Regions from separate parts of the Homo sapiens genome. Here region 1 is linked to region 2. The links come from fine-mapping of genetic effects on gene expression. A gene starts in region 2. The other region holds a variant in brackets. All regions are shown on one strand. Distances are between the middles of the regions. Region 1 overlaps UVSSA (UV stimulated scaffold protein A). Region 2 holds the start of UVSSA (UV stimulated scaffold protein A).

Region 1 (14,802 bases), 44 kb before region 2:
GGCCCAGCACCCCCACCCCACAGGGCCCCTCACTTGGTCACAAACACTGAGTCACAGGTTTGTCTTTTAATCAGCATCCATGAAAATTCATTAAAAGGTCTGATACGAAAAGCACCAGGCTAACAAATCAGTCCTGAATTCAATTTTACAAAAACACCCTCTCCTCTTCCATCTCATCCCTAATATTCCTACGTTATCTCGAGGTGCAGAGAAATATAAAAGGGATCCTTGACATAAAAACGTATTAAAAAGCCACCATGAGTAGAATGTACGGTAACAGCGTCTGACTCGGCCGGCAGGACAGGAAACCTACAGAACCACCATGCCAGGGCTTTGTGTGAGCAGGCGGGCACTCCACATGGGCACGTGTGTGAGCAGGCAGGCACTCCACATGGGCACGTGTGAGCAGGCGGGCACTCCACATGGGCACGTGTGTGAGCAGGCGGGCACTCCACATGGGCACGTGTGAGCAGGCGGGCACTCCACATGGGCACGTGTGAGCAGGCGGGCACTCCACATCGGCATGTGTGTGAGCAGGCGGGCACTCCACAATGGCACGTGTGAGCAGGCGGGCACTCCATATGGGCACGTGAGCAGGCGGGCACTCCACGTCGGCACGTGTGAGCAGGCGGGCACTCCACATGGGCACGTGTGAGCAGGCGGGCACTCCACATCGGCACATGTGAGCAGGCGGGCACCCCACATCGGCACGTGAGCAGGCGGGCACTCCACATGGGCACGTGTGAGCAGGCGGGCACTCCACATCGGCACGTGAGCAGGCGGGCACTCCACATGGGCACGTGTGAGCAGGCGGGCACTCCGCATCGGCACGTGTGAGCAGGCGGGCACTCCGCATCGGCACGTGTGAGCAGGCGAACACTCCACATGGGCACGTGTGAGCAGGCAGGCACTCCACATCGGCACGTGTGAGCAGGCGAGCACTCCACATGGGCACGTGTGATCAGGCGGGCACTCCACGTTGGCACGTGTGAGCAGGCGGGCACTCCACATGGGCACGTGTGAGCAGGCGGGCACTCCACGTCGGCACGTGTGAGCAGGCGGGCACTCCGCATGGGCACGTGTGAGCAGGCGGGCACTCCGCATGGGCACGTGTGAGCAGGCGGGCACTCCGCATGGGCACGTGTGAGCAGGCGGGCACTCCGCATCGGCACGTGTGAGCAGGCGGGCACTCCACATGGGCACGTGAGCAGGCGGGCACTCCACATGGGCACGTGTGTGAGCAGGTGGCACTCCACATCGGCACATGTGAGCAGGTGGGCACTCCACATGGGCACATGAGCAGGTGGGCACTCCACATGGACACGTGTGTGAGCAGGCGGGCACTCCACATGGGCACGTGTGAGCAGGCGGGCACTCCACATGGGCATGTGTGAGCAGGCGGGCACTCCGCATCGACATGTGTGAGCAGGCGGGCACTCCACATGGGCACATGAGCAGGCGGGCACTCCACATGGGCACGTGTGAGCAGGCGGGCACTCCACATTGGCACAAAGCGAGGGCTCATGCATAAGAGGTGCAGGGACACCTGGACAGCTATTTGAAATTTAAAAACTGGGTTTCCTGGCTCACATTTTGTATCAAAAACTAGAAGTAGATCAATGATTTCAATATGAAAATGAAACCCATAAAAGTACTAGAAGAAAACATGGAAAACATTTCAAATATAATCTTTAAGGGGGAAGAGCATTCTAAGTAGAACACAAAACTTAGAAGCCAAGAAAGATTGATAATTCAACTACATAACTCATGAAAGGAAGATCTGAGGAACGAGATGCCCACAGTGGCCGCTGAGAAGCTCTGCCACACTCCTGGAGGCATGGAAGGCTGTGCCCACACAGGCACAGAGCTGTGTGTGTGCCCGAGAGGAACCTGAGCTGCCCTGGCCCTCACCTCTGGCTGGCTTTGTGGCTGTGTGCAAGTAAGAAGTGAAGGCAAAGGCACAGTTGGCAGCTGCCTGCTGGAGCACTGACCACATATCAACTGCGTGTCAGCAGAACCGCGATGGAGCGCTGAAGGCACACTCACCATGCATCAACTGCGTGTCGGCAGAACCGTGAGAGTTACTGGTGCAAAGCACTTAAAGGGGTCCTCTGTCCAGTCACTGGCTGAACATGAAGCTGATGAGGTGGACACTTCAAATTAGTCCAGAACACACACTAAACAAAAGGTAACAGCAACAGAACAACAATAAACTCGTGGAGAGGGTATCTGATTTCCAGAGTTGCACAGCACATTATTAAAGTGTCCAGTCTTCAAAAAATACATATATATGAGACCACAAAGAAAGAGTATGTTATTTCCTTGGCTCTGACATGGGAAAAAAGGTCATCAATAGGAACTTCCCCTGAATAAGCCCTGATGTTGAACTTAGTAGACAAGTCACCTATCTATCTTATCTTATCCTATCTATCTATCTATCTATCTATCTATCTATCTATCTATCTAATCTATCTATCTATCTAGTTTTGAAAGCGTCTCGCTCTGTGGCCCAGGCTGGAGTACAATGGCTTGATCCTGGCTCACTGCAACCTCTGCCTCCCGGGTTCAAGCAATTCTCCTGCCTCTGCCTCCCAAGTAGCTGGGATTACAGGTGCACACCACCACGCCCGGCTTAGACAAGTACTTTAAATCAGCTTCTACACATATGTTCAAATAACTAAAGGAAACTGTGTCTACAGAATTAAAGTATGAGAATGTTTCACTAAACAAAGAATATGAGTAAAGATACAGAAATTATAGGAGAGAGCCAAATGGAAGTTTGGAGTAGAAAAGTACAATAACTGAAATGAAAAATTCACTAGAGCAGCTTGACATCAGGTTTTGTTTGGCAAAAGCATCTGTGACCTTGAAGATAGGTCAACTGAGATGACCCATTCTGAGAAGAAGAAAAAATTCCGGAATAAAGGAAAGTCAAGGAGGCCTCCAAGGCTGTGCCCAGCTCCACATCAACACACGTAGCTGGAGTCCAAGTGGGGGAAGAGAACATGGACATAAAATATTTCGAGAAACGACAACCTAAAATTTCCCAAATTTGCAGAACCACAATGGAGCGCTGAAGGCATACTCACCACACATCAACTGTGTGTCAGCAGAACCATGAGAGTTACTGGTGCAAAGCACTTAAAGGGGTCCCCTGTCCAGTCACTGGCTGAACATGAAGCTGACAAAACCGAAGGATTCAATACCCACATTCAATATCAATATAACTAGGCAGAAGATCAATAAGTGAAGAGAAGATGTAAACAATCAGACTACAAGAAATATTAACCTCTATATCCAAGAAGCTCAAAGAACTGCAGGTAGGACACACTGAAAGATCCACAATTAGACACACCACAGTCAAACAGTCAGAAGCTAAAAAGAGACTGAGACATGGTGCGGTGCTCCCGCCATGGAAACCACAGATGCCAGAGGCAGTGGAATGACATCTATAGAGGACTGAAAGAAAAAGAGGGCCAACCAAGTCAGCCATATCCAGCACAATTATTCTTCAGAAGAGAAGGAAAAATTACAACATTCTCAGATAAACAAAAACAAAGAGAATTCATTGCTAGAAGATCTGTCCTACAAGAAATACTTGAGGCTGAAGTCCAAGACACCACACTCAAATCCACACAAAGAGCACCAAAAAAGACAACTGCAAAGCCAGCAACAGAGACAGCAGAAACTCATTTCTGTTTGTACATCTTTTCTTCTTCTATGTGATTTAAAAGACAACTGCATAAAGCAATAATTACAAGACTGCTGACGGACTTACAATCTAAAAGGTAGCATTTATATGACAAATACAGCACCAAGAAGCTGAGAGGAAACAAAGCTACTTGAAGTGAAGGTTTTTGTACATTATATTAAGTTCATCTGAACACTTGATTGGTTTTACGTTGTTACTGTAATACTCAGAGCAGCTGCTAAGAAAGTTACTTTTAAAAAAACCCAGTAAAACAGACAAGGAAATTACAATGTTACAAGAGAATTAAATGTCCATTTAACACAAAAAAGTAATGGAGAAATAAAGGAAGAAAGACAAAAAAGACAATATAGTAAACAAATTTAGAAATGGCAGATACAAATCCAACTTTCTCAGTAATCACACTGAATGTAAATGGATTAAACATCCCTCTCAAACAGCAGAGACCAGCAGGACAGATGAAAAACATGATCCCACTATGTGCTGTCTACAAGAAACACACTTTTGATTCAGAGCAGAGACCAGAAAGACAGATGAGAAACACTATCCTACTATATGCTGTTTACAAGAAACACACTTTAGATTCACGGCAGAGACCAGCAGGACAGATAAGAAACATGATCCCACTATATGCTGTTTACAAGAAACACACTTTAGATTCAGAGATACAATGAAAGTTAAAGGGTGAAAAAAGATACCATGCAAACAATAATCAAAAAAGAGCTAAGTGGCTATACTAATAACATACAAAAGGGACTTAAAGACATTTTTTTTTCACTAAAGACAAAGAAGGACATGTCATAATGATAAAAGGGTCTGTTCATCAGAAAGAAATAGAAATACAGATGCACTTAACAGAGCTTCAAAATTTATGAAACAAAAGCTGACAAAACTGAAGGATTCAATACCTCACATTCAATATCAATATAACTGGGCAGAAGATCAATAAGGGAAGAGAAGACATAAACAATCAGACTACAAACCAATCAGACCTAACAGGCTTCTATACAACACTACAAACCAATCAGACCCAACAGGCTTCTATACAACACTACAAACCAACCTCTGACCCAACAGGCATCTATACAACACACACACCAACCTCTGACCCAACAGGCATCTATACAACACTACAAACCAACCTCTGACCCAACAGGCATCTATACAACACTAGAAACCAATCAGACCCAACAGGCATCCATATAACACTACAAACCAATCAGACCCAACATGCATCTATACAACCCTACAAACCAATCAGACCCAGCAGGCATCTATACAACACTACAAACCAACCTCTGACCCAACAGGCTTCTATGCAACACTACAAACCAATGAGACCCAACACACATCTATACAACTCTACAAACCAATCAGACCCAACAGGCATCTATACAACACTACAAACCAATCAGACCCAACAGGCATCTATACAACACTACAAACCAACCTCTGACCCAACAGGCATCTATACAACACTACAAACCAATCAGACCCAACAGGCATCTATACAACACTACAAACCAACCTCTGACCCAACAGGTGTCTATACAACACTACAAACCAATCAGACCCAACAGGCATCTATACAACACTCCACCCAACAAGAGCAGGATAGATATTCTTCAACACTCTGGGACAGAAAATACGGTATGCCAATAAAATAACTCTCAATACATATAAAAGACGAGAAATCATACAATCTATGTTTTTTAGCCATAATGGAGTGAAATAAGAAATCAGTAACAGGCCAGGTATGGTAGCTCATGCTTGTAATCCCAGCACTTTGGGAGGCAAAAGTGGCAGGATCACTTGAGCCCAGGAGTTCCAACACAGCCTGGGCAACATAGTCGGACCCTGTCTCTACAACAAAATTTTTAAAAATTTAGCCAGGCTTGGTGGCTCATGCCTGTAGTCTCAGCTACTCAGGAGGCTGAGGTGGGAGGTCAAGGCTGCAGTGAGCTGCGATCACTGCACTGCACTCCAGCCTGGGAGATAAAGTGAGATCTTGTCTCTCAAAAATAAGAAAAGAAGTCAATAACAGAAGGAAACCTGGGAAATTCACATATATGTGGAAATTAAACAACAAACTCTTAAATAACCAAGAGATAAAAGAAGAAATCACCAGAAAAATCAGAATATACTTTTAGATTTAAAAAAGGGAAAACACAATATAGCAGAACTTAAGGGATGAAGTAAATCAGTGCTGAGATAAAAATTTATAGCTACAAATGTCTATATGAAAAAGATTTCAAATCAGTAAGCTAATTTTCCATCTTAAGAAACAAGAAAAAGAAGAGAAAATAAAACCCAAAGCAACCCAAAGGAAATAATAAAGATTACAGTGGAAATTAACAAAATAAAGAATGGAAAATCATAGGGGATAATAAACAAAACCAGAAGTTGTTTCTTTAAATAGATCAACAAAATTGATAAATCTTTAGCTAGACTAAGGGGAGTAAAAGAGAGAAGAATCAAATTACTAAAACCAGAAAATACTATGAATAGGCTGGGAGCATTGGCTAACATCCACAATCCCAGCACTTTGAGAGGTCAAGGTGGGAGGGTCACTTGAGGCCAGGAGTTTGACAAAGATCAGCCTGGACAACACAGCAAGATCCTGTCTCCACAAAAAAATTTTAAAGAAAATTAGGGCTGGGTGTGGTGGCTCATGCCTGTAATCCCAGCACTTTGCTAGGCTAAGACAGGAAAATTTCTTGAGGCCAGGAGTTTGAGACCAGCCTAGCCAACATAGTGAGACCCCATCTCTACCAAAAATAAGCTTTTAAAAAATTAGCCAGTCATACTGCCATGCCCCTGTAGTCTTAGCTACTCAGGAAGCTGAGATGGGAAGATTGCTTGAGTCTGGGAGGTCAAAGCTGTAGTGAGCCATGATTGTGCTACTGTACTCCAGCCTGGGTGACAGAGCAAGACTCTGTCTCAAACAAAACAAAACCAAAGACAGAAAATTAGCTGAATGTGGTGGTGCATGCCTGTGGTCCTTCCTACTGGGGAGGCTGAGGTGGGAGGATCACTTGGGCCCATGAGTCTGAGGTTGGAGTGAGCTATGATTGCACCACTGCACTCCAGCCTGGGCAACAGAGTGAGACCTTGTCAGTTAAAAAAATTTTTTTTAATGCTATGAACCATTATATATGAACAGATTGCAACAAAGAACCTAGAAAGGGACAAACTCCTGGAAAGATGCAAACTACTGGAACTAAACAGATCTATAATAAATGAAGATACTGAATTAGGGAAAAAAATCCCACAAAGAAAAGCCCAGCCTTCACTGGTAAATTCCACCAAATGTTTAAATAATTAACAACAATCTTTCACAAACTCTTCCAAAAAATAGGAGGGGAGGGAACACTTCCCACCTCAATCTATGAGGTCAGTAGTGACGTGACTAAAGCTAAAGACATCACAAAAAGACTACAGCCCAATATCCCTCATGAATACAGATGCAAAATCCTAGCAAACCAAAGCCAGCAGCATAGAAAAAGGATTATACACCATGAACAAGTAGAATTTGCCCCATGAATGCAAGGTCGGTTCAATATATGAGAAACAATGTAATATACTGTATCACTATAATAAAGGACAAGAATCATACTATCATCTCGACAGATGGAGAAAAAGCATCTGACAAAATTCAATACTTTATGACAAAAACACTCAACAAACTAGGAGGAGAAGGTAACTTTTTCAACCTGATAGAAGCATCTACACAAAACTGCATTGTTAGCATCACATTCAATGGTGAGAGACCGAAAGCTTCCCGCTAAGATCAAGAGTAAGACGAGGATGTCTGTTCTCACCACATCTATTCAACATTGTCCTGGAGGTACTAGCCAGAGCAATTAGGTAAGAGAAATAAAAGAAATCCAGATTAGAAAGAAAGCTGTTTGCAGATGACATGATTTTGTGTATGGAAAATCTTAGGGAACATACAACTAATTAGAATGAATAAACAAGTTCAGCAAGGAATGCTGGATACAAGATCAATACACAAAAGTCAGTTGTACTTCCACATATTAGCAATGATCAGCCCCAAAGTGAAATTTGGAAAACAATTACATTTGTGATTGCTTTTGTAAATGCAATTTATAATCTTTTAATAATTTATAATTGCATTTATAGTCCTTTTGGTTATAAATCAAAAATAATAAAATATGAGTAAATTTAACAAAATAAGTGAGAAACTTATATACTGAAAACTACAAAATACTGTTGAAATAAATTTAAAAAGACCCAAATAAATGGAAAGATAATCAGAAGCTCATGACTCAGAAGATTTAATATTAAGACGGTAATACATTCCAAAGCAATCTCTAGATTTAATGTAATTCCTATCAAAAATCTCAGCTGCTTTTTTTTTTTTTTTGAAGAAACTGATGAGTGGATCCTAAAATTCATTTGGAAATGCAAGAGATGCAGAAGAGTCAAAACAGCCTTGAAGCAGAACAAAGTAAAACTTCTCACAACAAAGCAGCACTGATCAAGGCACTGTGGCACTGGCATAAGGTTAAACAGGTCAATGGAATAGAGTCAAGTGCCCAGAAATAAGCCTGTACATTTTTGGTCAACTGATTATCAATAATGGTGCGAAGATAATTCAATGGGGAAAAATAATGTTTTCAACAAATGGTGCTGGGACAACTGGATATCCACATGCAAAAGAATGTGGGCTCTTACACCACACACAAAACTTAATTCACAATGGATCAAAGATCTACACATAAGAGCTGAAATTATAAAATGCTTATTAGAAACTAGGTGTAAATCTCTGTGATCTTGGATTAGGTGATGGCTTCTGAAATGTGACAGCAAAAGCATAAGCAACAAAAGAAAAAAACAGATAAATTGCTGTACTTCATCAAAATTAACTTTTGTGCTTCAGAGGACACTATCCAGAAAGTGAAACAACAGTATGGAAGAAAGTTTTTGCAAATCAGCTGAGTGCGGTGGCTCACACCTGTAATCCCAGCACTATGGGAGGCCGAGGTGGGTGGATCACGAGGTCAAGAGATCAAGACCATCCCAGCCAACACAGTGAAATCCCGTCTCTACTAAAAATACAAAAATTAGCTGGGCGTGGTGGTGCGCGCCTGTAGTCCCAGCTACTCAGGACGCTGACGCAGGCGAATCGCTTGAACCCAGGAGGTGGTAGTTGCAGTGAGCCGAGATCACGCCATTGCACTCCAGCCTGGCGACAGAGCAAGATTCCATTTCAAAAATAAATAAATAAATAAATAAAGTTTTTGCAAATCACATGAGGATCTAGTATCCACAGTATACATATAAACTCCTGGCCAGGAGTGGTGGCTCATGCCTGTAATCCCAACACTTTGGGAGACCGAAGCAGGAGGATCGCTTGAGGCTAGGAGTTCGAGATCACCGTGGGCAACACAGTGAGACCTCATCTCTACAAAAAATTTAAAAAATTAGCCAGGTGTTGTGGTGTGTGCCTGTAGTCCCAGCTACCTGGGAGGCTGACGTGGAAGGATGGCTTGAGCCCAGGAGTTTGAGGCTGCACTGAGCTATGATTCTGCCACTGCACTCAGCCTGGGTAAGAGCAAAAGCCCATCTCTAAAAGGAAAAACAAAAAAAACAACTGTTACAACTCAAGATAAATCATTCAATTAAAAATAGGCAAGAGGTTTGAATAGACTCCTCTCCAAAGGAGATACACAAATGGCCAGTAAGCCCACGAGAAGATGTTCGGTATCCTTCTCCAATGCTGCTGTGAACATGGGTGCACAAGCTTCCGCATGGACAGGTTTTCACCTCCTTTGTTTTATACATTGGAGGGGAACTGCATGGATAAACCTTAAAAACAACGCCAAGTGTAAGAAGCCAGGGACAAGAGGACACATGTATGAAAAGGCACATCCAGAAACAGAAAGCAGATGACTGAACGGTTCACTAGCCTTTGTGTTTGTGTTAAAAACAGCATTTGCACAAAAGTGGGTTTCCCAGAGTTCCTCTGAGTGGTCGCCTCCTGGCTGGGGAATGCACGCTCTGAAGGCTGAGCTGCACACACATTCCGTCCGTGCTGAACCCCACACCACGACAAGCACTGGTCTCACGAGGACTCGCAGAAGCCCTCTGGAACAGGGTCGCTGCCTGTGTTCACATCTCCAGGCCCGAGGGCCTCTTCTGCGAGGCCAGACCCATCACCAGACGATGCCGAACCCTGTAGCAGCAGAGCGGCCGTACCTTCAGGGCATTGCAACACACCATTTCTTTACATCAAACACAGTAATAGACAAAGCATGGTTACTGCCCAGACCCACGCCCACTCTGCTGTCCTGAGACACTGGCAGAGGGAGAAAGTGCTGATGGCCAGTGCACTGGGCCCCGCTCTCTAGTTCAGTGCGTAGTTAAACTGGTTTGAAAACTTCTCGTGCTTCTTCTGGTCCATCCGGTTCATGGCTGCCACTACCCTCCGCACAGCTGCCCTGTGGGGAAACAAGGCAAGATGTGACCTGGGAGGCTTCCGCCAGGGGCCTGGGCTCCCAGTGGCGGCATCACCAAAGTTAGGCACTGGTCCTGGGGCAACTGCTGCCCTCGGACACTGACAGACTGCCTGTGGGTGCCACCTTCAGAGACAGATGGGCGACGGGCCCCTTGGCCCTGGCCCGAGACAGACAGGCTTAGAAAGGGCCGCCCCAGGTCCCAGAAGCGGAGTCTGCGGCGGGTGGTTCTGCGCGGTGAAGGTGGCCCCAGCCCCACCTTGGCACTTCTCCCGTGGCCTCCCGCACTCCAGGATGAGGGCAGCCTCCCCCTTGGCCTCCCGGGGAGCGGCCTCGCAGGAGATGCAGCCAGGAGGCGTCAGGACAGCCCTGCCCGCTGCTGCACGCACGGCTCCACGGCCAGGGCTGGAAACCTGGAGGGCTGCAGCAGGGGGGGCACGGGCCAGGCAGGCATTCCGGGGAGCAGGATGAGGTGTGCTGTGCTGACCAGCTCAGCTGCTGCGACCCACGAGGGTGTGGAGCTGTGGAGCCAGCAGGGCCTGAGGCCACAATGTGGTGAAGCTGCCGCTCAGCTGCGGCCCCTGTGGGGCTGCCAGGCGCTGCTGTGGGGGCCCCTCGAGGCAGGGTTTTGCCTGTGGTCACCCCAGATCCTTTCTGTAGGGAGGGGTCTGGGCCACACAGCTGTGGCGAAGAGCCAGCTCCTGCCATGGGCTTCAGTGTCCCCATGAGACACAGGGAGGAGGCCTGGCATGGGCCCACTGGCCATTCCTCCTCCTGGGCATCAGCACCAAGGCTGGCCTCTGCCCCTGGCTGATCCACGGGAAAACAGCCTCACCCTGAGCTCCAAGGGCTAAGGTGCCTTGGGTGGCTGGCATACGGGATGGGTCCAGCCCTGTGCCAGGGGCCCCAGGCAGCCTCTCCACAGCCCCCACCAGCGCCCCTGCCCCACCCAAGCAAGGCTGTGGATGTACCACCCACAAGCCTGGGGGAAGCCTGGTCTGAGTGCTGTGAAGGCGCCTCCCACCCGAGCCCACTCAGGCCGGTGCACGGTCATGCTGGCCAGGAGGGGCCTCCTCTGCCCGGTGCACTTAGCACCTTCCAGGTGTGTCCAAGGGAGGGTTTCTGGGATGGCGATGGGTGGGGGCCACCTCACTGGTGCTACCAGACAAACCTGCACCAGCAGGGACTTGACACAGATTTGGGAGGGAGTCAACAGCCTCAGGTGGCTTCTAAACAAGCATTCTGGATTTTCTTAGGCGAGAACAAGGCAATATGAAGACAGAAACACAAGGCCGTGCGAGTGGCTGGTGCCCCAGCTGACAGACTGCACGCAGGGACGCCGGGCTGGTGGGCTTCGCACTCTGGCCCTGCCAAGTCCTCACCAGTCACACAGGCCCATGCTGGGCTGCAGAGACACCAGGCCAGCCTCCCAGAGCCAGTGCTCAGAGAAGACATGCTGGGGCTGGGCTCTGCTGGGGCTGACGCGTGGACCCCCGTTCTGCCCGCCTTTGCAGTCATCGCCCTCCCTGAAGTCAC[C/T]GCTGCAGAAATACGCAGGCACTGACCTGGGGGTACAGCCAGGCAAGGGAGAGACGAGGGGCTCACTCTGCACCAGCCAAGGCCTGTGTCCTGGCATGGCTCCCCCAGGAAGCGAGGATGGCGGTGCCTGGCGGTCGAGCCCCTCTTATCCTGGGGAATGCTGGGGGGCGTTCCTGAGCAGACCTGCCTGCTGCCCCTGCTGGCTGGCACTGCCCCTCCCCGGGGAAAGGCTGGGTGGTCCCCCAGGGGAACTCAAAGCAGGGGAGCCCCTGGAGGCCCCAAGTCCCTGGAATATCTTGGCGCTCAGATGGCCCCCCTCGAACACCCTCACACGGGGGGGCCACGCGGTGGGAGGTGACCCAGCAGCCACTCTTACTTGGCGAAGACTTTTCTCCCAATGCGAGCGCGGGCGGTATCAGCCTGAGCCTTCAGGTTGGTGAGGCTGGGGTACCTCCTCTTCTTCCCCCTGCCTTTCCCGCTGTACCTGGATGAGCCGAGATCCTGCCCTGTGGCTGCTTCCACGTCTCTCATCAACTCAGGGTCCTGCCATTCTGCAAACAAAACTCAAGCACTTCAGGAGACGTCTGGCACTGACCAGAGCCTCTTACCCGAGGCCCCCAGGAGGGGCTCTTGGTCTCGTCCTGACAGGGGGGCTGGGTCGCCTTGCCCACGGCCGTACCCTGGCAGCAGCAAGCCTGAGAGGATGCTCAGCGGTTAGGGTTCCCTGAGCAACAGGCTGGGGAGGGTGGGCATGCTGGCCCCCACAGGGTGAAGGTGACACAGAGCTTGCCCCCACCGCCCCACACCCCCACAGGCCCCTGCAGCCCAGAGATGGGGAGCAGGGGCTCAGCCCAGAGGCCACTCCTAGGGCACCCATGGGCCTCCCAGGCTGGAAGGCGGCTAAGGCCAGCGGTTGGGGGGTGGCACCATCCGCAAGCTCCTTTCCTGCCTGCAGGCTGGACCGTGCCCCACTAGGCAAACTGTGGCCCTGCTGGACACGCCTGCTGGTGGGGAGGTACGTGTGGCAGGGCTGGGCCAAGCATGATGCTCAGCAAAGGGCTTTTCTTTTTCGTTGATCCAAAGATGACCTGGCCTCAGGCCTCAGAAATGCAGGCTGGGGCTCTCCTAGACAGAACTGCCCTTCCCAAGCAAGCCGTGCATTGTCTGCTTGAGGCCCTGTGGCAGTGAGGGGACAGAAATGTCAACAGCCCCACTGGGCAGCCTCCCAGGCTGAGAGTACCCACCGTGCAGATGGCACTGAGGCCCTCGGGGGTCACAGGCCCAGGCTTCCTGTGGGGTTCCCCACACAAGGCGGAGGTGGGCCTCCACCAGGTGTGGTGCTGGTCGGGCTCGGGAAGGCCACCCCTGACGGGACTGTGATGGCCATGGGACTTACAGACAACCCTGGCTCACAGAAGGGGGCCAGGCACCAATGCTACAGAGGCACCCGCTCCTGCAGACAGGACCCCACGAGCTGAGCCAGTGGGACCAGGCCACGGGGGCGACCAGGCCACGGGGGCACATCCCCGGAGGAATGCCCACATCTCGGACGGATGGCCAGGCCTCCCAAGCGGATTCTTTGAAGTGAAGGAATACGGGGCCCACAATTCAGATACAGGAACGATTAATCCAAGATTAAGGAAAACTGTCCAAACAGTTTATCTCCCAGTAATAAGAAGGCGCCACAGTTTAGGAACCCGGTGAATGGAGCAATTGTTTAAACACAACGAAAAAGCCCCGGCACCCAGCAGAGATGGAGCGAGCGTCTCAGTGAAATGAAGGAGCAATTTAAAAGCCTTTGAGGAAAATCAATAGATGCTGGGACCGCGCGGCCTTCCTGGGCGCTGACGGGCCCTGCAGCAGCACGCACATTGTCACTGAGGTTAGCACCAGGGAAAGGAAAATTGCGCCGTGCGCGAGGGAGGCGGGGATCAATACCGTAGTTAGTAAAGAGACACTATTTCACATCTGACTGGCCAGCGCTGGCCGCAGCCCGCGGCCTGATACCTGTTTGTTAACAAGTCACCAAGGGCTGGAAAACCAGATACTCTTCAGGGTTGACACAAAAAATAGGCACTTAATTTGCTCCTGAGTGTGAGCCACCAGGGAAGGCCTCACCCGGAGATTAGCAGGTCAGGGCCCTCCCGCCGCCCAGGGCTGAGCTGCTGCCTCTGGGCATCAGGCTGCACTCAACATCTGCCTCTCATGACCAGAGTGCAAGACACCCGGGAGCCATGACAGAGACAGCTTGGAAGGGATCCTGGGCCCCCAGAGCTGCTCTTCAAGACAAGGTGTGAACCCCCACTTCGGGCCAGGGCCAGGCCTGCAGGTGTGGCCACTCTCCAGAAGGGACCGAGGCCGGGCGGGGACTCACATCTGTAATCCCAGCATTTTGGGAGGTGAGACAGGAGAATGCAGGAGTTCAAGACCAGCTTGGGCAATACAGTGCCACCCCACCTCTACTAAAAATAAAAATACAAAAATTAGTCGGGCATGGTGGCATGATAATTCCAGCTACTTGGCAGGCTGAGGCACGAGGATCGCTCGAACCTGGGAGGCCATGACTGCGCCACTGCACTCTAGCCTGGGTGACAGAGAGAGACCCTGCTTCAAAAAAAAAAAAAAAAAAAGCCAAATCAAAGTAAAAAGAAGAGAGAGCGCCTGAGGCTGGCCAGGGCCTCTAAAAACAAATCTTCCTTGGAAAACAGATATGCAGGGTGGGCAGATGGGCCCGAGGGGAGGCAGGGCGGGCAGATGGGCCTGGGGTGAGACAGGGTGGGCAGATGGGCCCTGCTGATGTGGCAGTGCTGCCCCACAGTGGCCTTGCTGTCCAGGGCCTCTGGGCACCCGCACTCCTGCCGCCATAGCAGTGGCCACACGCCTCCTGGACAGAGCTGTGGCCACCTGCACACTGAGGCAGGTGCGGGGTATGGCTGAGGAGGCCAGAGGGGTTCCTAGAAGCCACTCTGGGCTCAGCCCAATCACTTCTCTCGCCTTAAGGCCTTCACCTGCCTGAAAACACGAGGGAAGCAGGACCCAGCCACACAGATGGCACCTGTGGCTTCGGGGCCGTGGGTG
Region 2 (14,164 bases):
CAAAGAAAAAAAAAAAAAGAAAGAAAATAAAGACTAGGGCTGGCCCAGCACAGTGGCTCATGCCTGTCACCCCAGCACTTTGGGAGGCCGAAGCAGGTGGGTCACAAGGTCAGGAGATTGAGACCATCCTGGCTAACACGGTGAAATCCCATCTCTACTAAAAATACAAAAATTAGCCGGGCGTGGTGGGGGGTGCTTGTAGTCCCAGCTACTTGGGAGGCTGAGGCAGGAGAATGGCGTGAACCCGGGAGGTGGAGCTTGCAGTGAGCTGAGATCGCACCACTGCACTCCAACCTGGGCAACAAAGCAATACTCCATCTTAAAAACAAAAAATAGCCAGGTGTGGTGGCGTGTGCCTGTAGTCCCAGCTACTTGGGAGGCTGAGGCAGGAGGATCACTTGGACCAGGGAGGCGGAGGTTGCAGTGAGCCGAGATCGCGCCACTGCACTCTAGCCTGGGTGACAAACCAAGACCCTGTCTCAAAAACAACATCATCAACAACAACAACAAAAACTAGAGCTATCTATACAGAATGTGAGGAAGATAAAGCTCAAGTAGGCCTAACAAAAGACAGCACCCATGCGTGGCCAAGAGCCCTATGCGTCTGTAAGTTCACAGTAGTTTTTTTTTTTTTTTTTAAGAGACAACGGTCTTGCTGTGTTACCAAGGCTGGACTCAAACTCCCAGGACCAGGTGATCCACCAGCCTCGGCTTCCAGAGTCAGTGGGACTGTGGGTGTGCACCCTCACACCCAGGTGTTCACAGTGCATTACAACAAAACACAATGCACGTCTCTCTGCTGTCTGAGCCCGGGAAAGCCAGCACGTCTGCTAACTTAAAAGAGGTGACGAGACTTCTCACCCCAAGTACCTCACAGGTAGGAGAGCAGTGTGCTTGTTCCATTAGCAGGCAGAGGCTGCTGACTGGACCCAGGAGTCTGAAACAAACCCTGAGCATGAACCCTGGGAGACAGGGCACTCCAAGGGCACACAGGGAAGCCAGCAGGGCTGGGTCATTGCACTGGGGAGGACTGAGCCTTCGTGGCAGGTGGGGTAAGGGGCACGGTAGGGTCTGGGCAATGAGGCTGGGTTCAGGCCACAGTGGCAGATCCTGGTGGGTTTCATCATGCCAGGCACCAGCCCGAGCCCATAGTAGGGTGCGGGTGGAGCCTTAAAGTGCAAGGTTGGGACAGGTCCCAGAGTCCAGGGGCCACTGTCACAGAAAACGTTGCATCTGAAAAGTTGGATTTGGCTTTTCCTTTGTCTCCTACACGCACATAAAAAATGACACATGCAGCCTCAGCTCCACCCACACATAAAGCTTATGCTCTTCCTCTCAGAGCTGCGCCGCCCCTCTCAGGGAGGCCGTGACCCTAGATGCTGCCCTCTTTCCCACACCCCACAGATGGTCTGGCAGCCTGGGTGTTCAGGCAAGGCCAAGCAGGCCCCTGCTGTGCTAGGTTCAACAGGAGGCGCATCTTCACCCTGGTATCGTCTGCCCTCCTCACGTCAGGTAACCAGTCTCTGAAAAAATGGGCCAGGCCCACCTACCTTTTTGTTGTGTCTTAAGAAGTGGTAGCCCAAGGCAAGCTTCTTGTAGGCCTCCCCAAACTTCTCATTCCACCCTTCCACGGCCCGGGTGGTCGCCTGCCTCAGCCTCTGTGCCGCCTCCCTGGGGGGCGGCAGAGGCTGTGCGGGGTCTGTGCCCAGCGTGAGCTCCAGGAACTCCTGGAAGTTGGAAACAACCAGCATCCGGAACTGGTGAGACCTGACGAAGAGTTCCTCCACAATCTGGAAGGCTGAGAGACGGATCTCGGCGTGCTCCTGGGTCAGCTGTGCTATCAGCAGGCGGTAGGCGCGGCTCAGCTGCTCCTCTGAAGACCTGGGGATGCGAGCTGGCCTGACCCAACTGCCCCACACGCAGAGGATGGGCGGGGGGAGACTCTCCGTGCATGGATGCCGCACGCACGTGTGGCAGGGACCACCACTGCCTTCCCATCTTCATTCTCCCCTTTTCTAGAGCAGGGTCTGCAAACTACTGCCCAAGGGCCACATCTACCTCCCCAGCCCCTGCCTGTTTCTGTGTGGCCCACAAGCCAAGAATGTCAATACAAACAAAAAATACTTGGTGAAATGTGAAAATCATATACACTTCAAATGTCGGTGTTCATTCACAAAGTGTCATTGGAACGTCGCCCATCTATCCACCTACATCATCTACAGCTGTGTTCACAACTGAGGCATTACAGCAAAGCCTGAAACACAAACCATCTGGCTCTTTAAACACACGTTACCTAGCGCAACACACACCGCCCGGCACAAACGCCCACCGCCCGGCACAAACGCCAACCGCCCGGCACAAACACACACCGCCTGGCACAAACCGCACACCGCCCGGCACAACGCACACCGCCCGGCACAAACACACACCGCCTGGCACAACGCACACCGCCCAGCACGCACACTGTTTCAGCTGGGTGCCTCCTGCTGCAGGAAGGAAGGAAGGCCTAGAGCTCGGGACATCTCCCAGCCCCTCCTGAATGCTCCTATTCCCAGCTCCTGACCCCACATAAACCATTGCGAATTCGATTTCCTGGCGCAGGCCACAAAACCTGACCTGAAATTTTCTATCAAAATGTCAACACTCCATCACTGTATAAACAATCTATAAACTGCCATTTTACAAACACAGGATACAGAATAATCAGTGTCCTCGACTTATGCTCCACCCTCCGAGGGGAAGTTTTGCTTCCCCCATGAATCTCTGGCTGCCTGAGGGTGACGGCAGAGATCCCCTCCGGCGTTTTCCTTGGAGGAAGTGAACAGAGGTGGACATACCCTAAAGGCGATGGACCAACTCGCCCATCAGCAAGCTCTATTCTTTCCCTTCGAAAAGTCCAGCAGCAAAGAAAAAGATGCACGTTTCTCTCTGAATCACATTTGTGCACTCAAGAACTCCTACAGGATGTGCTCCAGACCACACAAATGGGAATGAAGAGAAGCACCAACCACAGAGCAGTGGGGTCCCCAACGCCACACGCCCCGACCCCAGAACATGACCACCCGTCAGAGCCGGGTACTGCAGGGCCCCGAGAAAATGTCCTGGGTGTGTCCCTCGGGTGGTTCTCTCCCAGGTGGGGGCAGGAGGGCAGGGCCCTGTGTGTGTCCTGGGCTCAGTGGGCCAGTCAGTTACTGTTACTGAACCCTAAGACATACTTGCAAATTTTCTTCAGTTCCTTCATTTTCTCAGGATTTAGTCGGGGTTCTCCTGAAGTTGTGAGCTCTTCTACCAACTTCGAAAGTTTCTGATCCATATCTAGAAATAAGTAAGGCAGAGATGCTATATCACCATCTGTATTTTATAGCTCTCGGTGTTATTAACGTGTTTACTGGGTTCCACTATAAACCGAAAGCTCCGGGAGGACCCTGAGGCTGGGGTCCATCTGTGGGTGCCTCTCTGGGAAATATGTGTGTCCAGCAAGGCCTTTACGGCGGTGATTGCAGTTTTAAAAGTGAACCTTAAACTCGGGACCTCTACAATCCCGTGTGTGGGACGCTGCATTGAGGGTCGTGCGTTAAAGGAACCAGTGGCGCTGTCCGAATCAGCTTTTCCCCAACGTGACTGTTGCTGTTTCCCTTATTCACTCAGATTCCGCAGGGCAGCCTCCAGCAAGGCTGCAGAGGCCAAGAGGAGCCAAGAAATTCTGAGACCAATGAAAAGTCGCGTCCGGAGAGCAGGGGCGGCCCTAACGGAGGCAGCCTGCCCGGATACCCAGGGCCGAGCACCGCGGCGTGCCTGGTGGGATGAGGCGAGGGCCTGCCGCACCGCCAGGGAAAGGCCGAAGGACCCGGAAGGAAGCGCCAGGCGAGGCCGGGGCGGAGGCTGGGAAGCTGCGCCCTACTCGGGGAAAGAAGGGGCCCGGCAGGGCCACGCGAGGCTTGGACCGCGGGGTCGCTCTCGCACAGCGGCTGCACCGGGCGGGCGCGCCGGCTTCGACGGTGCTCGGGGGGCTGCGGCCTGTCACTCGGCCCAGGGCCCGCCCTCCGGCCCCGCCGCCGGCGCTCTCGGGCACACGGGACACGCCCTGGCCGCAGGTCTCTGCCCGGCGCCCGCAGAGCCCCGGGGACCGAACCGGCGCGACCCCCGCCCGGCAGCGTAACCACAGCCCCACCTACCGCTGACGCGGCCGCTCGCCTCGCCCCGCCCCTTCCGGCGGGGGGACCGCCCCTCTTGTCAGGTGCCCAAGACCTCTACCGCCATTGGCTGGCCCTGGGCCGGACGCATCAGGACCTGGGGTCACCACAGCGACGACTGCACCTACCGCTCGACGCGGCCTTTCTCGCCGTTGCCCCACCCTTTCCGGTCAAGGCCCCGCCCCCTAGCACGTGCCCTGAGCTCGACAGCCAATGGCTCACCCCAGCCCAGGAGGCGCAGGCGCAAAGACGCGGCCGAGGTCTGCGCGGTGACGTAGGCGCGCTCCCGGCGAGGGCGAGGCAGGCTGCCGGGGGTGGGGAGGGGGACGCACGAGAAAAAAGAGGCGGGAGGGCGCAGAAAGTCCTTAAAGGGGCCGCATGTACGGGCGCCGGGGGCGGGGCCGGCCGGGAAACTGAGGCCGAAAGGAAGTTCCGGTCTGGGCCTCAACGCCACGCCCGCCCGCGGGCTCGCAGCCAGGTCCCTTCACCTGCAGAGGGCCGGTGAGGACCGCCCAGACGGGCGGGCGCGGGCCCCCGCCCCCGAGCTCGCCCCGCGCAGGGCGCCCTGAACCCCGCGGCGCCTCCCCGCTCCGGCCTCGGGAAGGGAATCCCTGGGCGGGCTTGGGGGTCTTCGGGGCCCACCTCGGCGCCAGACGCACAGCAGGTACCCCTGGGCCCGGGCTGGCCCTGGGCGGAATGAGAAGCAGAGGCGCCGTCCGTCCTGCCGCCGAAGTCCGCAGCCTCGAACGCAGGGGAGTGCGAGGTCGGCTGCGGACGGACGGACCTGGAGACCGCGCTTGGGAAACCGTGGCTTCGGAGGAGCGTGGTGTGGACCCCACTCGCGGGGCGCCCGGCACAGGCCACGCAGAGCAGACGCCCGACTGGGCTCCCGGGGCTGGGTGCAGGGCGGGGGCCGCCGGCGGCGGGCCGGGGTTTCTTTTTCGGGGGGATGGGCGTGCCCTTGCATTACGGTGGTGGTAGCTCACAACTCTGTTAATCGTGTTTTTACAGGGTGGGTTTCAGGATGTGTGAGTTATATCTCAGTAAAGCAATTATTTTAAAAAGGAAAAGAAGAGGGACTCCCTGCGCCGCCCCTCTCTGCAGCACCAGCTTCTGTCCCTGGGCGTCAGTGGCTCCCAGCTCCTAGCTTGCAGCCAGCCCCGAGCCGCTCCTCCGCCTCACCCCTTCCTCACCCTGCCTCTTGCTTCACTGAGCAAGCTGCAGCCAGACCCTCCCTCAGCGCCCCTTGCCCTGTGCATCCAATCCCCGGCCTGTGGCTTCCTCCAAGGCACCCATCCAGCAGTTTCCCTCTGTCTTCTACAGCGTGGTTTTTTTTGTTGTTACTAGTTCTCATTAGTATAAAAGGGTGCCGTTTCTCCCATACTAACAAAACCCTCTCTTTATCCAACTTTTCTTACCAATTGCTAAGTCCAGTCTCCTTTACACTGCCCCGGGGTGTCCTCTCAGCCCTCAGGCTCAACAGCACAGCCAAGCTGCCCGTCCACTGCCCTCTGTATCCGCTGATGGCCCTGCAGCCTTTTTTTTTTTTTTTTTTTTTTTTTTTTTTGAGACAAAGTCTCGCTTTGTCACCCAGGCTGGAGTGCAGTGGCACGATCGCGGTTCACTGCAGCCTCCGCCTCCCGGGTTCAAACGATTCTCCTGCCTCAGCCTCCCGAGTAGCTGGGATGACAGTCACCCGCCACCACGCCCAGCTCATTTTTGAATTTTTAGTAGAGACGGGGTTTCACCATGTTGGTCAGGCTGGTCTCGAACTCCTGACTTCAGGTGATCCGCCCGCCTCGGCCTCCCAAAGTGCTGGGATTACAGGCGTGAGCCACCGTGCCTGGGCCACCGTGCCTGGGCCTGCCCTGCATCCTTCTGTTCGCTTGGACCAATTATCTGACTCACTTGGGCTTCTCTCTTCCTCTCACTCCATGCCCATTTGGTTTGCAAATCCTGACAGCCCTACCTTCAGAACACATCCAGATCTGAGCACGTCCCACTGCCTCATTGCCACTGCCAATTCCTGGCCACCCCTGCAGCAGGTCACTGCCGTCACCTTGTCTTTCCCTTGCACCCTGGTACCCCTAGACCATCATGCAGCAACCAGAGGGACCTTTGAAAGTCTAAGGTCGGATCACAGGATTCCTCTACACAAAATCCTCCGACGGCTCCCATCCCAGGGCAAGGCAAAACCTGTCGTGGCCTGTGTTTGCTGCCCCCTGCATCCCACCGGTTGACTTCTCCAGCCTGCTCTTGCTGCCACACGGCCTCTGGGGAGCGGATCCCTCTGCCGGGAAGCTTCTGCCAGTATCCACAGAGTTCCTTGCCTCCTTCCAGCCACTGCTCATGTCTCACCCTGAGCAAATACTTCTGCACCCGCTCACCTCCCTGGCTCAACACCCCCCATCCGTTTTCTAAACCTGCCGTGCTTGTTCCCAGGGCACTTCTGGCCCTTGTGTCACACAGACTTACTGTCTTACTAGGTGATTCGCTTTTTTCTCTTCACTCCTAAAACATACAGTCCCTGAAAATAGGGATCTTTGTTTCATGAAGCCAGACAAAAAGCAGGTGCTCAATATTTGTTGAATGCTGGATAAGATTAGAAAGCCAAGATAAATCATGATGAGAGTTAGACGATATTCTTGTTTGTTTTTGTTTGAGACAGAGTCTTGCTCTGTCGCCCAGGCTGGAGTGCAGTGGTGTGATCTCGGCTCACTGCAACCTCTGCCTCCCAGGTTCAAATGATTCTCGTGTCTTGGCCTCCCAAATAGCTGGGATTACAGGCGCCCACCACCACGCCCAGCTAATTTTTGTATTTTTAGTAGAAACAGGGTTTCACCATATTGGCCAGGCTGGTCTCGAACTCCTGGCCTCAAGTGATCTGCCCACCTCAGCCTCCGAAAGTGTTGGGATTACAGGCATGAGCCACTGCACCAAGCCAAGAATTAGAAGATACTTCTAAAAGATATTTTAAAAGAACCAATGGAAACTTAGAGATGATAAAACCCAAGCAGGATAAACAAAGAAAACCACCCAAGGCACATCTTAAATTGCAGAAAACTAGTGACAAATCTTAGAAGCAGTCAGATTAAACAAGGCGTATGACATACAGGCACAAAGAAGCCAAGGATTTCTTGTCCCCTCCTCCCCCTCCACCCAAAAAAAAAAGCCAGAAGAAAATGGAACATCTTTAAGGTGGTAAAAGAAAAAATACTGTCAATCTAGAACTGTATATGCAGCAATATAGCCTTTAAAAACTGAGGTGATGTAAAAGCATTTTCAGACAAAAGCTGCATGAATTATGACCAGCAGATTTGCAGTCCAGGAACTGTTATAGGATGCTCTTCAGATGAAAGGAAAATGATACCAGAGGCAAACTTTATAAAAGGAATGAAAAGTTCTATAAATACTTTTTTTTTTTGAGACGGAGTTTCACTCTTGTCACCCAGGCTGGAGTGCAATGGTGCGATCTTGGCTCACTGCAACCTCTGCCCTCTGGGTTCAAGCGATTTTCCTGCCTCAGCCTCCCGAGTAGCTGGGATTACAGGCACGTGCCACCACGCCTGGCTAATTTGTGTATTTTTAGTGGAGACAGGGTTTCACCATGTTGGTCAGGCTGGTCTCGAATTCCTGACCTCATGATCTGCCTCCTGGAGGTGGCAATACCTTAGATGCGAGAAGGATCTAAATCTGCAGGAAGATATACCATATTCATGGGTTGAGGACTCAATATTGTTATGATTTATAAGTCCTTGTTATGGACTGAATTGTGGCCCCTGCCTACCAAATTCCTATGTCGAAGCCCTAACCTCCAATGTGACTTTATTTGGAGATGAGGCCTTTAAAGAGGGGAACGTTAAATGAGATTCTAGGGATAGAGCCCTCATCTGATAGGACTGATGTCCTCGTAAGATGAAGAGACTCCTGAGATGTGTGTGCACAGGAGGAAGTCCACCACGAGAGGTACACAGTGAGAAGGGGGCCGTCTGCAAGCCGGGAAGAGAGGCCTCACCGGGAGCCAACCCTGCCAGCATCTCCTCTAGAACCGTGAAGAAATAAATGTCCATTGTTTAAACCCGCTAGTCCGTGGTCTTCTGTTACGGCAGCCGAGCAAACTAATACCGTCCCCAAATAGGGATGATAGGTTCACTGCAGTTCCAGTGACAATCCCAGCACACTTTTTACAGTGTTCAGCAGACACTGATGAGTTGATTTTACAACGTGCGTGGAAATGCAACAGACCTAGGACCACCAAGACCATTCTGAAAAAGCAGAACTGGAGGACTCATCATACCCCCTGGTTTCAAGATTTGCCTTAAAACGGCAATAGTTAAGATAATGTGGTGTTAGGACAAGGATAGACCTAAAGGCCAGTCTAACAGAAGGTAGTGTCCAGAAATAAACCCCAACTTAACACAGCCAGGAATTTTTTCTAATGGAGCCAACGTTATTCAACGGGATAAGAAAGGTCTTTTTAACAAATGGTGTTAGAACAATAGAGTAAACATATGGGATGGTGGGGAATCATCCTCAGGCTCTTCCTCACACAACACACACAAGTTAAGAGATGTGTTACAGACTTAAAAGCCGAAACTGAATCTTCTGGAAGATATATTATTGCAACCCTGGAATAGGCAGATTTTTTTTTTAGAACATAGAAAAGCATTAGCCACAAAAGAAAGAATAAATTGAACTGCACTAAAACTTAAAAAATCTGCTGATCAAATGACAGTCAATAAAGTATAAATACACATATCCCTCAAAGGATTTGTATGTGAGGAATCCCTACAAATCAGTAAGATAATGCAATTTAAAATGAGCAATAGACAAATATGTAAATTACAATCAGCGCATCAGGTCAAAATCAGACATCAAAGAAAAGCAAGGGAAAATCACACTGTGGCCCCAGTGCACACCCACCTGAATGACTAACCTGACACTACCAAGTGTTGACAACAATGTGGGGCCACTGGAATCCTCACACTGCTGCTGGAGTGTAAAACACTACCACCAACTTTGGATAAATCTTTGGCAGTTGTGGTACAGTTAAACATAAACACACCATGACTCAGTTCCTTCTACTTCCAGAGAATTACTTCCCAAAGAAATGAAAATAATGTCTGCAAGAAGACTGGCACACAAATGTTCATAAGAGGTTTACTTATTATAGCCCCAAATAGGGAACAACCCAGATGTCTATCAAGAGAATGGATACAGGCCGGGCGCAGTGGCTCACACCTGTAACCCCAGCACTTTGGGAGGCTAAGGCAGGCAGATCATGAGGTCAGGAGATTGAGACCATCCTGGCCAACATGGTGAAACCCCGTCTCTACTAAAAATACAAAAATTAGCTGGGTGTGGTGGTGTGCACTTGTAATCCCAGCTACTCGGGAGGCTGAGGCAGGAGAATCGCTTGAACCCGAGAGGCAGAGATTGCTGTGAGCCAAGATTGCGCCACTGCACTCCAGCCTGGTGTACACTGTGGTCTGTGCATACATGGATTACTATCACTCCACTCAGCAACACCTAAGGACGGAACTGCTGACATGTGCAACAGGCATGAACCTCACAAGCGTCTGTGGAAACAAGCCAGATCCACCAGTGTCCACATTCCACCATCTGACACCTATGGAGGCACAGCTCACCTACGGTGACAAAAATTAGAGCAATGATTTTGTGTAGGGGTTGTGGATAACTCAGAAGGTACAAGGGGTCCCTTTCTGGGGCCATGGGGACGTTCCATGCCTGGGCTTCAGTGGTGGTCACATGGAGGTACATTTATTAAGACTCATTGAGTAGCTTTTACTTGTATGTGCATTTTGGTGTATGTAATTTTTACCTCAATTGAGAAAGAGTACAGCGAGATAACACAACCAACAAAACATCTCACATTCAAGACTCCCAGTGCCACTCGCTGGTGTGGATGTGGAGCAGATGGGCAGAAGTGGGTGCAACCCCTTTAACAAACCGTCAGTGTCTGCTGAGTGGACACGTGGCCCAGCAATGGCAACTCCTCGGCATCTCCCCACAAAAGAATGATGCGTCCAGCAAGGGTCACCTCCCGGAGTGCTCACAGCAGCTTTACCTGGACACCGCCTGATGTCCACCGGCGGGAGAGGGGCCAGGCCGCTGCGCTTGTTCTGCCTGGAGAGCACAGGCCTGTAACCAGGCAAGACTTTGCCGTGCCAGGGCTGAGCCGCCGAGTAACGCTGAGCCACGGACCCACGCCATGTGGCTCTGTGTTCGAGGAGCTCAGGGCCGGGGTGCGCCACTCCAATGATGACTGACCAGGATATTGACCGGGCAAGGCCAGGGGCTGGGAACAGTCTGTTTGGTGGTTACATGCATGTTACACAGAAATTCGTTATGTGAACTTAGAATGTGTGTGCTCCAGTATGTTCTACTCGAGTTAAAAAGGAAAGAACAGGACGCAAGACAAGGAAAGCCCCTGCACGTGAGGACGGTGGAGGCCGGGGCGGCTGCGTGGCAGTGGGGCCACAGGGTCTGCTTCGGCCGAGGGGACCTGGGGACGGGCGCTCCAAAGAAGAGCACGTGGGAATGTGGTGGGTTCCAGCTGGGTGCTGTGGAGGGGCCAGGGCAGCCACCATGGGGTAAGAGATGGGCTAAGGGGCACCAGGCTGGCCACAGGAGCTGCGACGGGGCACTGGAGAGAACAGGGGTGGGCGGTGGGGGGAAGGGCCAGTGGCCACAGCCCGCAGGCCTCCTTAGCCCAACCCTAGACTCAGCCCAAGCCGCAGGCCCAGGCTTGCTGGTGGCTGCAGCCTGAGCCCCCACCCCCAACAGACAATGGCCCGTGGGTCCCAGGAACCAGTGTCTGATTCACCCAGCTGCAAGCCGGGGCCTCAAGACGCTGGGGCCATCACGCCTCAGGGCAGCGCCCGAGAGGAGGACTGCGGTCCGGGCAGGAGTGGCCTCCAGCCGGCTTCTCAACTCCCGGTGGCCGTGGTGCCAGAAGCTACGCATATGCCCGCCATGCTGCCCGGGCCCCGGGGAGGAGCAGAACACAACCTCGGTGTTAGAAACGCACGGCAGCCTCGGCTCACACGGAAATGAGAAATAGAAAACCATTTTATTCGCATGGTTTACATTTACAGTTTATTAGCTAGTCAACATCAACATGCAAAAATAAGCACTAACTACAAACCTCTACGATACGGTTCTCTGTCAGCTACGGTGGTTCATTTGTTTTGAAAAGTCATCAGTACTTCTTTCAACTGAACGATTAATTTCTGTAATGGATAGCAATTAGACTCTACAGTTATGGAACCATCCGGCAAGGCCTCTGCAGAAATTTGGTCCCGTGGATTTCCACGTTATACATTCTCGAAGCAGGAAGTAAGGCGGCACACAGAGGGTGTGATATCGAAACGACGCAGCTACGAACACAGCCCCGCGATGTGATATCGAAACTATGCACGTACGAACACAGTCCCGCGGACACGACCCGCGAGGCAGGCGGGCGTCCTCGAAGCCAGCCCCCGACGGTGGCGGCGCCAGGCGTTTTGGCAGCAGCTCTCGAATGAAGCCATAAGTGTCCCTCGTGGCGCGGCATCGCGGGTCACTGCAGGTCAGTCCGGTGCCGCTGCCACCTTCCCCGGCCAGGCCAGGGCCAACAGGAAGTGGTGAAGGACCAGCCCGTTCTCCAAGTCTCATCGTTCACAGAAGGAAAGAAACTGAAAACACAGGGAAATCACGGACTCCTATATTTTAAACGTTCTTAAGTTTCCCTCGGTGTTTAGGTCAGTCTTTAAAGAAGAGTTTCCTTCGCAAGTTGAAAGTACTTTTCAGAAGCATCAAATGGTTGACGTGTTACAAAATCCTACCAATCCAAATGTTTTCAAGTACAAACTTATGAAACCTTATTTTCTCTCTTCCTAAGAGTATTTATCGTTGCTCACGGATCTTTGGTCGCAAGAAACAGAAACGCCGCGGCAGGCTGGAGCGTGGGACAGGAGGAAGGCGTGGCCTCCCCGCCCACTGCAGCCCGTCCCCGAGGCGTGCGCTTCACGACGTGGGGCCTACATGATGTACACCTTCTCGGCTTGTGAGAAGTGGAAGACTTCTTTGGTTCTCGGGCACACGACTTTATCATCTTGACGGATAGAAAGCAGAGACTGAAAAATAAAACCGGGAATGCATTAAGGCAAGCGACTACAACGTACACACGGATTTCCATGGAAAATCCCCACAATGAACCACCAGGGAATGACTCATCCTCTCAGGCAAAGTTCCTTCCCGAAGGCACACCTGCCAAAGAAATCCCGGGGCCACCTCGCCTGTCCTTCCCACCCCTTCATCCATTTCGAACGAAGCTAAGGCAGGGTGGGGCGAGAGGACAGCCCTGTCCCAATGGCGACGTGTGCCAGCCTGGCCCCGCTGCCCTGCCCGCCCCACACAGCCCTGTCCCGATGGCGACGCGTGCCAGCCTGGCCCCCCGCCCTGCCCGTCCCACACAGCCCTGTCCCGATGGCGATGCGTGCCAGCCTGGCCCCCCTGCCCTGCCCGTCCCACACAGCCCTGTCCCGATGGCGATGCGTGCCAGCCTGGCCCCCCTGCCCTGCCCCCCTCACATTGTAGCCGTAGACGTAGCCGTTGGGCAGCATCATGGGCGGATTGTTCTCGTTCATCACGTCGCCAGAAATCTTGCAGACCAGGCGGGAGTTGGCACAGTGGGCCATGGGCAGGGGCTGCGCCAGCTTGTTCAGGGAGCGGCTGCACACAGGGCAGTCAGGGCTCTTGGAGCTGCCGTCCTCCTTGTAGCACTGTCTGAGCATCGGGTCAAGGAAGGGTTGGGGGCCACTCAGGGCAGCCGGGGTGAGCCCAGCCCCCTGTGGCCACTCTGCCCTGGGCTGCGTGCCCTTCTGGCTATGTGGGCGCCATGCTGACTACACGGGGCTGTCTTTCGAGGCACAGGAAGTGCTGCACTCGACAGCTAAACAGCCCCACTGAGGCCTCGGTGGAGACAAGAAGCCTGCGCCTTCTCACCCCGGCCTCCAGCACCAGGACCACAGGCACAGAGTGGCTCCGTCGCCCGCCGCCCTCTCCCCGGCCACGCAACCTCTCCAGGCAGGACAAGAGCCACCCAGCAGGGACGTTCTGCTGGCACCTAGGAACAGGCAGTGGGCAAGCACGCCAGCCCTCTCGCCCAGAGTTCCACAAAGAGGGGACAAGGGAGGGGGCCTGAGTCTCATTCATACCCCGGCACAGCCAGGTACCAGCAGCAATCGCGAAACACTCACTGCCCTCTGGGCCTGAGGCAGGTCACATGAAAGACATTCATAGGCGGGGACAGAGTCAGTTGCAGGAGGACAGTCAGTCACAGGTGGGGACAGAGTCAGTCACAGGTGGGGACAGAGTCAGTCACAGGAGAGGGCAGAGTCAGTCACAGGCAGGGGTAGAGTCAGTAAGAGGCTGAGTCACAGGCAGGACGGAGTCAGTCACAGGTGAGACAGTCACAGGGCAGGGGCAGAGTCAGTCACAGGCGAGGACAGAGTCACAGGCGGGATGGACTCAGTTGCAGGAAGGGACAGACTCAGTCGCAGGCAGGGGCAGAGTCTGTCACAGGCAGGAAGAAGTCAGTTGCAGGTGGGACAGAGTCAGTCACAGGAAGGAATCAGTCACAAACGGGACAGACTCAGTCACAGGCAGGGCCACAGTGAGTCGCAGGCAGGGACCAAGTCCGTTGCAGGCGGGAGCCGAGTGAGTCACAGGCAGGAACTCAGTGAGTCGCAGGTGGGACAGAGTCACAGGCAGGATGGAGTCAGTCACAGGCAGGGACAGAGTCACAGGCAGACAGAGTCGGTCACAGGTGGGACAGAGTCAGTCACAGGCGGGACAGAGTCAGTCACAGGCAAGGTTCTTGGTAATCACACGGGAAAACTATTCTGAATGGTAATCTGCCGGCTGCCAGAACACATCAAAATCGGGCTTTTAGATCAATGCCCATG

What was found.
Region 1: its variant is fine-mapped to the expression of UVSSA in tibial nerve (GTEx, PIP 0.98).

Annotation. Positions count from the first base shown.
Region 1 is chr4:1,381,239-1,396,040 of GRCh38, reverse strand. UVSSA (UV stimulated scaffold protein A) reads right to left here. Exons shown (of 14, transcript NM_020894.4): 13 at 12,101-12,275; 14 at 7,992-10,173. The coding sequence ends at 10,080. Among named protein-coding and RNA genes, the nearest start is that of NKX1-1, 18 kb to the left of the region's middle. RefSeq lists enhancers at 64-804, 405-1,604. The variant C/T (reference allele first, on the strand shown) is at 11,725.
Region 2 is chr4:1,337,241-1,351,404 of GRCh38, reverse strand. It overlaps UVSSA (UV stimulated scaffold protein A), which reads right to left and starts at 4,197. Exons shown (of 14, transcript NM_020894.4): 1 at 3,645-4,197; 2 at 3,216-3,315; 3 at 1,551-1,881. The coding sequence starts at 3,313. It overlaps MAEA (macrophage erythroblast attacher, E3 ubiquitin ligase), which reads right to left. Exons shown (of 9, transcript NM_001017405.3): 8 at 12,788-12,983; 9 at 11,268-12,331. The coding sequence ends at 12,236. RefSeq lists silencers at 286-454, 3,819-4,258, 4,499-4,828, 5,049-5,138 and enhancers at 3,509-3,588, 5,434-5,956, 5,957-6,480, 11,705-12,223.